Homo sapiens: one gene and its partners. The protein of the gene in region 3 interacts with the protein of the main gene of each other region in a pairwise test. Each region holds a gene or a part of one and is shown on either strand. Other genes may lie near its edges.

The links.
Region 1: the proteins of OPRM1 (region 3) and HS6ST1 interact in a two-hybrid assay, tested with the Homo sapiens proteins (one large-scale study listed by BioGRID and IntAct).
Region 2: the proteins of OPRM1 (region 3) and NELFA interact in a two-hybrid assay, tested with the Homo sapiens proteins (one large-scale study listed by BioGRID and IntAct).
Region 4: the proteins of OPRM1 (region 3) and CPLX1 interact in a two-hybrid assay, tested with the Homo sapiens proteins (one large-scale study listed by BioGRID and IntAct).

The regions. Positions count from the first base shown.
Region 1 is NC_000002.12:128,270,361-128,273,928, forward strand, and holds part of HS6ST1 (heparan-sulfate 6-O-sulfotransferase 1), read right to left. Parts: intron 1-3,568. UniProt on the Homo sapiens protein: 6-O-sulfation enzyme which catalyzes the transfer of sulfate from 3'-phosphoadenosine 5'-phosphosulfate (PAPS) to position 6 of the N-sulfoglucosamine residue (GlcNS) of heparan sulfate.
Region 2 is NC_000004.12:2,002,446-2,006,013, forward strand, and holds part of NELFA (negative elongation factor A), read right to left. Parts: intron 1-3,568. UniProt on the Homo sapiens protein: Essential component of the NELF complex, a complex that negatively regulates the elongation of transcription by RNA polymerase II.
Region 3 is NC_000006.12:154,126,220-154,129,595, reverse strand, and holds part of OPRM1 (mu-type opioid receptor), read right to left. Parts: 3' UTR 1-3,376. UniProt on the Homo sapiens protein: Receptor for endogenous opioids such as beta-endorphin and endomorphin. Receptor for natural and synthetic opioids including morphine, heroin, DAMGO, fentanyl, etorphine, buprenorphin and methadone.
Region 4 is NC_000004.12:816,126-819,693, forward strand, and holds part of CPLX1 (complexin-1), read right to left. Parts: intron 1-3,568. UniProt on the Homo sapiens protein: Positively regulates a late step in exocytosis of various cytoplasmic vesicles, such as synaptic vesicles and other secretory vesicles.

The DNA of each region.
Region 1 (3,568 bases), on a different chromosome or scaffold from region 3:
TCCCTGCTCCAGGCTCCCACTTCACACGTCCCAAGGCACACCTGGCCCTCCCCAAGCACCCTGCACCCACAGCCTGCCTGGTACCACCCATCCATGCTGATGGCAGCAGCTCCTGGGCACTCGGGGCCTCAAGGGCCAGAGGGCGGGACCTTCTTCAGGTAGCAGGTGAGACAAACGTTTTAGAAACAATAATGACCAAGGGCCAGGGAGTAAGGGCCCGAGGCGGCCGGGGCAGGCTTCTGTCTCCTGCCTCAGGCTCACGAGGCCCTGACTGCTCAGAAGAGGCTATCCATATCCTTCCTAGCTGACCCTGTGTCCAGGGGAGGCATAGGGCCGCATGGACCTCCGCTCCCCACTCCTGTGGGGCCGTGACCAAATGGATGGAGACAGGCCAGTGTGGCAGGTTTCTTCTGAACACAAAAAACCACAGTGTGATGTGTCCACCAACAGAGAAGCTTGCCCTCCTAGCCCCAGCCAATGACCCTGTGAGTTACAGCCACAAGGACTCTGGCCCCAAGGGTGACTCTGAGGGCAAGGACACGCTGTGCACAGTGCAGCAGGCCCCATCTGGGAAACACAAATGGCTCAGTTCCTCTCCCATTTTCAGCGCCCCAGCCCACAGGCGGGTCCTTCAGCCCCAGCCCCACACCCATTCAGGGACCATCCCCTGAAGCCCAAGGCATGCCTCCATCATGAGCTCCTCTGCCCATGGCCCAGAGAGGGTGTGTGACTTGCCCAGGGCCACAGAGTCATGACACTGGCCAGGGTCTGTGCTAGCTGACTGGAAGACCTGCAGAGCAAGCTGCCCTGTGCCTGGTTAGCAGCGGGGACAGATCCCGTCAGAGGCCCAAGCATGCAAGGGCTTGGCACCCTGCAGATGGGGTCTCCCATGGTGTAGCCTGTGCCTGTGTGTGTATCGTGCAGGCTCCAGAAGACGCTGATGAGCCTTAGAGCCTGCTGGTCATGTCTGGAGCCACCTAGCCAGCGCTGGGCCTAATGACTGAGGGAGCAGGCAGAAGTGGTGTGAGGCCCCTCGGTGGAAGGGCTGCTTCTGGGCTGGTGGAGGGTCCGGGTCACCTGCCTGGCTCCCACCTGGGAATGCATGCAGGCACCAGGCCTCGATCCAGCCTGTTCCTGGACAAGGGCCCTGGCTCCTCAGCTCTGGGGGTGCAGAACACGGGGAAATGCGAGGGAGGGAGCACAAAGCGGGGAGCTCGTGGCCAGGCTGTGAAGTGTTTCTGCTCAGTTCTGTCCGCCCCTGCTGTCAAAGCCTCCAGCTTCATGGCAGGACAGACTCTACCTGCCCTCACCCTCCTGCTCACAGTGGGCGGCTGCAGCCCCAGAAGACGCAGCACTCAAAGCTGGGGTTGCCACCTGCCACGATCCTGGCCTGCAGTGACGGGTGGGCACGAGGGCCCCGATTGACCCGAGGGCTTTCCCCTCCTGGGAGGAACTCATTCCTCAGCCGCACACAGTGGTCTGACCACACCGTGGGTCTTGGCAGCCAAGCTCGAGCGGCTGCCACTAGGGCACATAACTGCAAATGCCAGGTCAGCACCAGAGCACAGAGGGATGGAGGTGAAGCCGGCACCTTGGGAAGGGCCAAGACATGGTCTACACCAACCCCATACCCAGGTCCCCTGGGCGTTCAGATGGCCCCTGGCCACCTGAAGGCAGGAGCCTGGTGGTGAGGGCAGCCATGGGCCACAGCCACAAGGCTCCCTTCTCTAAGTCCCTTCTCCCTGGCAGCGACGTTTCTGAATGACAGCCTCCTCACCCCTGCAAAGCTCAGGGCCTCTGCCGTGGAGGGGCTGGAGCGTCTACCTGCTGCCCTCCCGATGTGGCCTGGTGCCCCCTCCCCTCCCCAGCACCGTCACGGTCTGCAGGTAGGAGGACACGGGTATATCACCCCTGGTCTCTGCATGGGCCATGCCCTTCACTGGAATGCCAGTGTGAGTGACCGCCCCTTGGTCAGACCTCTCCACCTTTAAGACCCAGCTCAAAAAGATAAGCGGTTGCCAGTGCAGGAGTGCGAGAAGAGCCCAGAGCACCCAGCAGGCACATGTAGTATGCACAGTGGGCCGGCTCTAGTAGCCCCAGATGGCACGCGACCTACTGACCATCACGGGTGGGGGTGGCAGCAGGCTCAGTTACCACGTGTCCGACGGCAGCATCCTCTCTACACAGCTGAGGGGACACAGCTGAGGGGAACAAAGGCCTCTCTGCCTGCGCCTGCAGGGGCAGTGTCTTGAGGGGACAGTGAGACCCCAGGGCAACTGAGGCAGAGTTGGGGGCCAGAGACAGGGAGGAGAGAAGAGGGCTCGATTTTCTGGGTCCAGCCATTGAAATGACTCGGGTTTTTTGTGTGTGAGCCACTTAGAGAAGCCGTGAGCAATTTACTCTTTGGTTTCTGAAAAAGCTGGGAGGGTGAGCTGCTGAAGACAGACACTCATTTGAAAGCCATCTAAGTCCGGGGCCCTCAGAGGACTGGAGGGGAAGCTTTCTCCTTTACTGCCCCAGGCCTGGCTCTCTCCTCTGCCAAGGCCTTCTGTGCACAGGAGGTCTAGCAGGCACCAACAGGGGCAACGGCAGGGGAAAGGGGCACCTGAGCCAGCGAAAGCCCTCATGGTCCCTGGAATGACCAAGCCTGTCAGCCTCACCTGTCCTTCCTGCGCCCATGTCCCACATAACCCTTCTGGACCAAGGCCTCCCGCTGCAGGGACAGCTGCTGGGGAACCACACCAGGGAGGCGGGTGTGTTCAAAGATATTAGCAGTGCTGGCCCAGCGGCTCTGCGTCTTGTAATAAAATGGCGCAACGGACACTGCACCTGGGGGAGCCTTAGGAGCTGACCGAGGCCCCTGCCCTAAGGCCCAATGGCTTACGCTGTCCCCACGGCTCCCTGTGCACCTTCTCTGCTCAGAACATTGCCATGCCCTGGGTCCCCTTGTTCTGTCCCCTAGACACGGCCTGTGGTATAGACAAAGGGCCAGCCAGACTCTAGAAGCTGCCTGTGAGGCCAGCAGCCAAATGTGGGTGTTCCTGCCCCTTTCTGCAGATGTGACAGCTGATCCAGGCAGGGTGACCTGCCCTTGGCCACCGTCCAGTTCCTACCTACACCTGCCTGAACGGTATGGAAGCCACTACCTGGCACGCCCCTCCATAGCCGGTGGGACTCTTTAGGAGCCAGAGGCGTCCAGTCCCATGCCCAACACGCAGAGCCCTCCCCTCCCCTCTGCCTTGTCCCCTTCCCTCTGCCAAACACTGCAGGCACTGCTGGCCACAGGCACGTCCTGGCCATCCTCTGGTCTGGTGCCCCAGCTGCGCCTTGCCCTGTCCCACCTCCTGTGCTCCGTCCTCTTTCCTCCATTGCATGCGTTGCCAGACGCATCTGCTGTTTACTCTCCAGTCTGTCATCTGCCAAAAGGCGGGGTGGAGGTGTCAAACAGAAGCAGGAAGAGGGCGGGGTGTGGCGAGGTGCAGAGGACTCCCCAAATGGCCCACCCCAGATCTAGGCAGCTCTCTGACATGTGCTCTCTGGAGGTGCCAAGGGGGCGGCTCATGGCTCA
Region 2 (3,568 bases), on a different chromosome or scaffold from region 3:
AAAGCTGGAGGCATCACGCTACCTGACTTCAAACTACACTTACAAGGCTACAGTAACCAAAACAGCATGGTACTGGTACCACAACAGACCTACAGACCAATGGAGAAGAACAGGGACCTCAGAAATAACACCACACATCTACCAGCATCTGATCTTTGACAAACCTGACAAAAACAAGCGATGGGGAAAGGATCTTCTATTCAGTAAATGGTGCTGGGAAAACTGGCTAGCCATATGTAGAAAACTGAAACTGGACCTCTTCCTTACACCTCATACAAAAATTAACTCAAGATGCATTAAAAACTTAAATGTAAAACCCAAAACCATAAAAATCCTAGAAGAAAACCTAGGCAATACCATTCAGGACACAGTCACGGCCAACAACTTCATGACAAAAATGCCAAAAGCAATAGCAACAAAAGCCAAAATTGACAAATGGGATCTAATTAAACTAAAGAGCTTCTGCTCAGCAAAAGAAACTATCATCAGAGTGAAGAGGCAACCTACAGAATGGGAGAAAATTTTTGCAATCTACTCATCTGACAAAGGGCTAATATCCAGCATTTACAAGGAACTTAAACATATTTGTAAGAGAAAAACAACCCCATCAAAAAGTGGGCAAAGGAGGTGAACAGATACCTCTCAAAAGAAGACATTTATGAGGCCAATAAACATGAAGAAAAGCTCTACGTCACTGATCATCAGAGAAATGCAAATCAAAACCACAATGAGATACCATCTCACGCCAGTCAGAAGGGTGATTACTAAAAAGTCAGGAAACAATAGATGCTAGCGAGGCTGTGGAGAAATAGGAAGGCTTTTACACTTTTGCTGGGAGTGTAAATTAGTTCAACCATTGTGGAAGACAGCATGGCGATTCCTCAAGGATCTAACACCAGAAATACCATTTGACCCAGCAATCCTGTTACTGGATATATACCCAAAGGAATATAAATCATTCTGCTATAAAGACACACGTACAGGTATGTTTACTGCAGCACTGCTTAGAATAGCAAGGACATGGAACCAACCCAAATGCCCATCAATGATGGACTGGATAAAGAAAATGTGATACATATACACCATGGAATACTACGCAGCCATAAAAAGGAATGAGATCCTGTCCTTTGCAGGGACATGGATGAAGCTGGAAGCCATCATCCTCAGCAAACTAACAAAGGAACAGAAAACCAAACATTGCATGTTCTCACTCATAAGTGGCAGGTAGTTGAACACTGAGAACACATGCACACAGAGAGGGGAACAACACACACCAGGGCCTAATAGGGGTGGGAGTGAGGGGAGGGAACTTAAAGGACGGGTCAATAGGTGCAGCAAACCATGGCACACGTATACCTATGTAACAAATCTGCATGTTCTGCATATGCATCCTTTTTTTTTTTTTTTTTTTAAAGAAGAAATAAAGGCCGGGAGCAGTGGCTCATGCCTGTAATCCCAGCACTTTGGGAGGCCAAGGCAGGTGGATCACAAGGTCAAGAGATGGAGACCATCCTGGCCAACACGGTGAAACCCCGTCTCCACTAAAAATACAAAAATTAGCTAATTAGCTGGGCATGGTGGCGCGTGTCTCTAGTCCCAGCTACTCGGGAGGCTGAGGCAGGAGAATCCCTTGAACCTGGGAGGCGCAGGTTGTGGTGAGCCGAGATCGCGCCACTGCACTCCAGCCTGGCGACAGGGCAAGACTCTGTTTCAAAAAAAAGAAAAAAAAAGAAGAAGAAGAAAAAAGAAAACATTACATTAAGTGAAAGAAGTCAGGCACAAAAGACCAGATGTATGATTCTATTTATATAAAATATCCTGAATAGACAAATCTATAGAAGCAAAAAGTAGATTACTAGTCACCTAGGAGTGGGGAGGAAGAGGACTGGGCAAATGCTAATGAGTGTAGGATTTATTTGGGGGATGATGAAAATGTTTGAAAATTGACTAGCATGACCATCAAACCTGTAAATATACTAAAAACTACTGAAGTGTACATTTTAAATGGTGAACTACCTGGCATAATTATATGGTACATAAAATAATATCTTTTTTCTTTTGAGACAGGGTCTCATTCTGTCGGCCAGGCTAGAGTGCAGTGATGCAATCATGGCTCGCCGCATCCTCAACCTCCCAGGCTCAAGTGATCCTCTCGCCACAGCCTCCCAAGTAGCTGGGACCACAGCCATGTGCCGCCACCCCTGGCTAATTTTTATATTTTTTATGGAGACAGGGTTTCACCATATTGCTCAGGCTGATCTCGAATGCCTGGGTTCAAGCAATCCGCCCATCTTGGCCTCCCAAAGTGCTGAGATTACAGGCATGAGCTACTGCACCCAGCTATACATTATATTTTAATAAAGCTTTTTTTTTTTTTTTGGAGACAGAGTCTTGCTGTCGCCCAGGCTGGAGTGCAGTGGCGCGATCTCAGCTCACTGCAAGCTCTGCCTCCTGGGTTCACGGCATTCTTCTGCTTCAGCCTCCCTAGTAGCTGGGACTACAGGCGCCTGCCACCATGCCCGGCTAATTTTTTTGTATTTTTTCTTTAGAGACGGGGTTTCACCATGTTAGCCAGGATGGTCTCGATCTCCTGGCCTCGTGATCCGCCCGCCTCGGCCTCCCAAAGTGCTGGGATTACAGGTGTGAGCTACTGCACCCAGCCAATAAAGCTATTTTAAAAAAATTCATGATTAAAAGATTTTTTTTTACAAGTCTTCTAAGAAGAGAATTTCCTTAACTAGATAAAGGGTATTTATTAAAGACAACAGGAAACATAATGCTCACTGGCAAAACATTCCGAGTTCTCCCTGTGTGATCGGAGGTAAGACAATGAGCTGGAGGGTCCTAGCCAGTCCAGTGAGACGAGAAAAAAAACAAAAGGTAATTGGAGAAAGAAAAATAATATGAAGTGCACAGAAAAATCAAGGAGATTCTATAGAAAAAAAAAATTTTGCAACTAGCAAAACTTTAGCACAGATACTAGTCACAAATTCATTATCCAAAAATCAGGCTGGGCATAGTGGCTCACCTGAGGTCAGGAGTTCGAGAGCAGCCTGGCCAACATGGTGAAACCCCATCTCTACTAAAAATACAAAAATTAGCCAGGTGTGGTGGTGCATGCCTGTAATCCCAGTTACTCGGGAAGCTAAGGTAGGAGAATCACCTGAGCTCAGGAGGAGGAGGTTGCAGTGAGCTGAGATCGCGCCACTGCTCTCCAGCCTGGGTGAGAGAGTGAGATCTCCGTCTAAAAAACAAACAAACAAACAAACAAACAAAAACAAAAATCAACGCATTTCTATATACCAGCAACAAGTAAAAACTAAGACTTTAACAGATACCATTTACAACGGCATGGAAAAATATGAAATAGGTGGTAATATATGAGATGGAAGACCCCTACAGAGATCACAAAGAACATCTAAATAGATAAGCCCACACCCACAAATTATAGGATGCAATATAAAGAGGACAGCACCCCAGAATGAACTGCAAGTTCAGCTCAGCCTTAAAATCCCAGCAGGCAGGCTCTACGTGTTTAAGAAGTAAGTATATAAGATACATGTGGAAG
Region 3 (3,376 bases):
ATTATTGACATTTTAGTTTTTCCATTATGATTTTCTGTAACAGTGGGCACTAAAACTCAATTATGTGGAAGTCTCCAATCATATATGATGTTGACATTGAGAGGAGAGAAAGACCCTCTCACATTGTTTTATATTGTTTCATATTCAGTAAAAACAACAAGGAAGTAAAACCAAATACAGGCAGCTCAGCGCCAGGCCCGAAACCAGGCCTGGGCCCGCCTGGCCTAAACCCAGTAGTTAAAAATCAACTTATGATTTAGAAGCCGATGTTATTCATAGATTCCTTACATTGTATAGAAGAACATTGTTCTGTTCTCTATTGTATAGAAGAACTCCCTGTCCTGTTCTGTTCCTCCCAGACCACCGGTGCATGCAGCCCCTGTCACATACCCCTTGCTTGCTCAAATCAATCACGACCCTTTCATGTGAAATCTAGTGTTGTGAGCCCTTAAAAGGGACAGAAATTGTGTACTCAGGGAGCTTGGATTTTGAGACAGTAGCTGGTCGATGCTCCCAGCTGAATAAAGCCCTTCCTTCTACAACTCGGTGTCTGAGAGGTTTTGTCTGTGGCTCATCCTGCTACACCATGAGGTTCCTATACTTCAAAATATTAATAAAACACAGATATAAGTTAAAACTCCTATTCTCTTTTGACATAATAGAGCCAAATTGACTTATGTTTATAGATCCAATTTAACATTAATTTCCTGTTTTTTACAAAGATCTCTGTGCACTATGCAAAAACAGAGCTAGAAGAAACAATACTAGTTTTTAAATTTATGTCAGAAATAGCATAGCTATTACCTGGCAGTTCCCATTTATCAGACCTTCAGCTCTCCATGAGGTACAAGGTAGCCTTTTTCCTCAATGATGTCTTTATGTGCTCAGTCTCCAGCTGTCTCTGGGAAACCAGCTAGTTCGAGAACAACCAGTATGATTGCTTCAACTGTCTTCAGGATCAATGATAAAACAGTAACCAAATTGATCTCTCAATTTCCTACTGTGAGTTTCAAACTTATTATGAGAAAAAAAAGAATTAAAAGAGGTGCCCATATTTTAATATGCATGTGCACATTCATGGGGCAACATACATCCTGGCACAAGGATCCTCAACGGACTGTCCCAGTTCTTAGACTTCACTGGAATTTTGCTATGGTGAACATTGCTTCAAATAAATGGTCCTTCAGCTGTTATTAGGAATTGTACTAAATAATTTGGTGCATAGATTTGCTTATGATAAGATTTAGTTAGAAGGAAGGAGTTCATTATAAAAGTGAAAAAGGAATCCCGTAGTCAGAATTAACTCCACCTTCATTTTATTCTTTTAATAAGTGGGTAAAGTTTATTAAGAAAACACACAAATCACTGGGCAGATCTTCAGGTAAACACCAGTTTTTCTTATTGTTATTTTCCCCCAGCCCATTCAGAAGTTATATGATTGAATTACAGGTAGCAAGGGGATCCTGAGAACACTTGCCAGATTACTATTTGTAATACTGAATTTATAAATCCTGGAAATACTCTGTTATTTGAACCTAATTTATACAGATGCGGTAGCTTGCATGGAAAGTACTCAGCTGGGGAGTAGGCCTATTGGTTTTCTCTGGTCCCTTGAGAAATAAGGGCCATGAATTTCCATAAAGCAAATGAGTTTTGAGTTAATACAGCAGTGATCAGTTACAGCTTACCACTGAGACAGAGCACTGGGTGAGCCTGGGGGCAGACGGGAACAAATTGTATTACAGCCAAAGAGAATTACAGGAAGCCTTTGTTATTTTCCTGTTTTCTGAATGAACCCCTGCAGAGGCAGGAACAGGCATTAGGAATCAGGTTTGCCACCTGCAGAGATGCAGGAGAACAAGAATCAACCTATGGATTTCTTGTGCTAGTCAGGATATTGGAGATTGAATTCTGACTGGCTCTAAGTCAAAATGATGGAGAGAAGAGAGTTGTTATTTAGTGAAAGCGAGGGGTGGGGAGGGTTGTAGCCGGCCCACCACAATGTCAAGTCATGAGCACAGGTACATCTCAATTGGTGGTGTGGACCTCCTAATCTAGTCTGGTAGTTCTTATCCTGAGCGTGTATCTGTGTGATGACAAACATTTCAGGGACAAGTAAAACGTCTTAAACACAACAAACAAATAAACAAGCAACAGCAACAAAAAACCCAAACAAAACCTCCCCCTAAGCCCCTAAACCCTTGAAGAGTAGGCAAGTAGGGCATAGGTGTTTCTGAAAACACCTAACTGGTCATTTTATTCAAATTCACTTTATAAATGAGACCTCTTCTTTTGGAAGTCTCTGGCGGAATCCTTAGATGATAATGGCCACTGATTTCAAAGCATGACATCTCAGAACACAGCAAAGAAAAGCCACATGTATCACTATGGTAGGAAAAGTGTAGAATTTAATACTGCATCTCAAGGCTGTGTTGTGTGAAGGAAACTTTGGGCACATAGCATGGCATGTGGCACTTTTTTTTTTTTTTGAGACAATCTCATTCTGTTGCCCAGGCTGGAGTGCAATGCTGCGATCTTGGCTCACTGCAACTTCCGCCTCCCCAGTTCAAGCAATTCTCCTGCCTCAGCCTCCCGACTAGCTGGGATTACAGGCGTGCACCACCACGCCTTCCTAATTTTGTATTTTTAGTAGAGATGGGGTTTTACCATATTGGCCAGGATGGTCTTGATCTCCTGACCTTGTGTTCCGCCCGCCTCGGCCTCCCAAAGTGCTGGAATTACAGGCGTGAGCCACCGCGCCCAGCAGGCACTTTTTTATTTGGGGAAAGTAAGAAGTCTAATATGTCACCAGCAGGACCCACATGTTTACCTCTGCTTGGAGAACCTTTGAGGCATTACTGAAGGCTGTACACCTGTCACTGAGCCTTCCTAACACAGAGCAGTGAACAACCATGGAAGCCAAATCTACCCTGCAGATGAAAAGAGGCACCAGCTGATTCTAGGCTTGGTTGTTTCGGTGTCACAGCAGTGTAGGGTGGTGACATTGCCACCACAACCAGATACAGAATATGAAAAGCACTTCTGCAACCCAGAAACCCAGCTCCTGAGGGAACCAGGGAAGAAGAGCCTATGAGACATTTGAATTTTGCAAATATTGGGTAGTGTTGGGACACTTCTGCCCTTCTTGAAATGGGGGAATATAATTGTTGTTCTCCTTCCCAGAATTTCTTTGTCTTTGTCCTCTTGGACAGTGAAATCACAACCATTAGGTCACACAAATGTAGTCTCCTCTCCCTTCTCTCTGGTCTTGTTAATTAAAGCAGTTTTGCTGTGCTTAAATTAATGAAGCTCACTCATGTTGTTCAGTGAATATGGCTATGTTCAATTTTACCCAGACTCTTAGGAAAAGAGTTGT
Region 4 (3,568 bases), on a different chromosome or scaffold from region 3:
ACTCACTAGTCCTAATAAATCAACAGCACTAGCAACTTTGCAGTGTCTCTTAAATTTACAAGTGGATCTGAAGGCATTCTCCGTGAAATTTTTTTTTTTTTTTTTTTTTTTGAGACAGAGTCTCACTCTGTCACCCAGGCTGGAGTGCAGTGGTGCAGTCTCGGCTCACTGCAACTTCCGCCTCCCGGGTTCAAGCAATTCTCCTGCCTCAGTCTCCAGAGTAGCTGGGATTACAGGCGCCCACCACCACACCCGGCTAACTTTTGTGTTTTTAGTAGAGAACAGGGTTTCACCATGTTGGCCAGGCTGGTCTTGAACTCCTGACCTCGTGATCCACCTGCCTCAGCCTCCCAAAGTGCTGGGATTACAGGCATAAGCCACTGCGCCCGGCCAAAAATATTCATAAATGAAGTGATGAATGATTTCAAAACAATGCAGTATCTCAATTTTCCCAGTGATTTTCTCATATCACTTCTTTATACTTATTATTTGAATTCTCTTCCTAGCCTGGGAAACATGGTGGGACCCTGTCTTAAAAAAAAAAAAATTAGCCAAGTGTGGTGGTACACACCTATAGTCCCAGTTATTCAGGAGGCTAAGGTAGAAGGCTCACTTGAGCCCGGGATGTTGAGGCTGCAGTGAGCTGTGATCGCTCCACTGCACTCCAGCCTGGGCGACAGAGCGAGACCCTGTCTCAAAAATTACAAAGACCAAAAGATGGGAGAGGAGTCGGAAGAGTATAAAGTGTGCAGAAGTCCTGGAAGTGTGTTGGCAAGGACTGGAAATACACTGCATCATTTTCAACTCTGGCAAGTAGAGCTTACATCATGTTTTCAAAGAGCACGCACATTCCAAAGCACTGCAGAGGTTTTAAAGAGAAAATGTGGTCCCTACATTAAGTTAAAATAAATGAAACAGCAAGAAAGCGTTTAAAAAGGCAACAACAAAGATGACAGAGGTTAGATCACATATGTTGGTCAAAACAGTGCACATTAAACAGATGCATTAAGGCTCCAATTAGATAAAAAATGAAATCCAACTACATGTATTTCTGAATGGCAACCCACATAAAGTGACAGAAACGTTAAGCAAGGCTCAGCAGGGGCACACTGGGTGAATGTAAAAAAAAAAAAAAAAAAAAATTCAGGCCGGGCGCAGTGGCTCACGCCTGTAATCCCAGCACTTTGGGAGGCCGGGGCAGGTGGATTGCCTGGGTTCAGGAGTTCGAGACCAGCCTGGGCAACACAGTGAAACCCCGTCTCTACTAAAAAAAAAAAAAAAAATTAGCCAGGCGTGGTGGCAGGCACCTGTAATCCCAGCTACTCAGGAGGCTGAGGCAGGAGAATCGCTTGAACCCAGGAGGCGGAGGTTATATGAGCTGAGATTGCGCCACTGCACTCCAGCCTGGGCAATAGAGCGAGACTCTGTCTCAAAAAGAAAAAAAAAATCAGTCCAAGGAGACTCCTAGGCAAAAATTAAAACAAGACCCAGCATAATCAGGATAATTTAATATTAATTAAGAGAAAAATTTTAAGTAAGGATGGAGCATCAGGAATCCCTACCCACTGATGACTGCAGTGACCGCCCCCTTCCCTCACGCCCCCTTGGCCATGAGGATTTCCTCCTCCAGGCCCTGGGGCTCCCTTCCCCTCCACTTCCATCTGGAGATGCTGCTGGCCAGAGACCCTCCCCAGGTGCCCATTGGAGGGTGCATTGTTCCCACCAGCCGTGAGGGGAGGTCCTGTGGGCACGCTGGACATAGTATCTCAGAATATTTTCCCCATCCGGTGTCAAGGAATAAACCAGCATCTGAGGAGCCAAGTCTGACAGGGGACACTGGAGGCGCCACCGCCCTCGGGGGTGGCTCACTGTCCACCTGTCATCCCTGAGCGCATTGGGCAAGGTCAGAAGAATGACCACAGGTGAATCTGGTGTAAAAGAAGGTTGGCTTTTGGCTCCTGTTCTTGCATTGCAGACAAGCCCACACCCCTCCTGAGAGCTGGGTGTCCAGCCTGCTGCCCGAGAGGCCCCAGTGCAGCTGAGCACAGGTCCAAGCCAAGCCTGGTTCGCCCCAGCCCTTGGGGAGGGGAGGCACCGAGGCGCTGGAGAGGTGTTGCAGCACCGGGCCATGCCCGCCTGACCTGCTCACCTGCTGACACCCAGGGGCCCTGGGCCTGGCTGGCCGCCACCACCTTACTTTGTCAAGCTGATTGTGGACCAGCCCCAGCCCCGCCACGGGCCTCGACTGCCACCGTCTCAGAGAGGCTGACATGGTGGCCTCACAGGTCCCCGGGCCCAGCGTCTGATGCACGTCCTGCAATGCTCCCTCTGTTTTGCGCCCACGCTGAAGTGCCACAAACACCTCTTCTCTCCTCAGCAACTCTGGTGGCTTTGCAGATCTTCATTAGCTCACCTGGGATGAGACGCTGACCTGAGCTGGAGCTGGGGTCCTGCAACCATGGCCAAGGCCCCCCGTCCACACCGCCGAGGCCAGGAAAGCCGCGCCATGTGAGTGACGGGAAGAGGCCGAATGAGGGCCAAGGATTACAACTGTCCTGGAAACCGGCGGCTGCGCCATCTGCCGCCGAGCTTGGCACTGTTTGGGTCACTTATTGGCACGTCCACCTCGCCTGTCTCCACGCATCCTCTCCTGAAAGCGAGGACCAGGTGCTGTATTGAAGAGCTGGGCGCTCGGTCCGCAGGCAAGGACAGCAGTGCCCGCGGCCAAGGACGGTGCTGGACTGGATGGTGGAGCTGGAGGGTGGGGCCTCGCCTCATCCCGGGGGACCGCCTAGTGGAAGGGCTGCCAGGCACTCAGTGTCCCCCTCGTCTGATCTCCGTGTGGACCAGGAGACCCAGGTTCTCTGAAGTTTGGCAGCATCAGATTTGCGTGGACTCAATGTTCATTCTGAAGCTTTCATCAGTTCCCTGTTCTGTCTGATGTCCCAGCATTAAACGCTCTGCGCTCCCCGTGCGAGTCCAGCAGCGTCTGATGGCAGCAAAGCGGGACTGAAGTAGTCCTGTCACGCAGGAGCTATTGAAACAAATGCTCTAACCCCAACTGGAACGTCTTGCCAACCAATGAGGCAAAAACATAAATAACTTTGTCAGTTGAAGTGCATAATATCCATTTTATTCCCAAGTTGGGGCTAAAGTATTTATAATTGAGTTGCAGCTTAATCAACCAAGAGCATCCTCTCTGGAGGAAAGGACTGCCCTTCACGGTTTCGGGAGGAAAGGCAGTTTCTCTGAAGGGTCCTTCCAGCCTCCCAGAAATCTGGGATAAGAGGCATCTCTGCCGAACCCAGCAAAGTGAGTGAGTGCTTTCTCGACCACACGGCGTTTGTGAAGTCCGTTCTGAACAAATGTTGGCATTTTACTGTTAAGTGTTTGCAAACTGCCTTTCGAGCACATGCCTTGTTCCAAGGAGTAAGGCTGGGAAGGACACACTGCTGGGGGGTCATTGCCTAGCGGTTCTGCACCTAGAAACCAAGTCTCCCCAAGTTGGGTGTGAGTCAGGCACTGTGGGACGCCTGCCCAACACCCGGCCTCTGTTTGGAGTAGGACG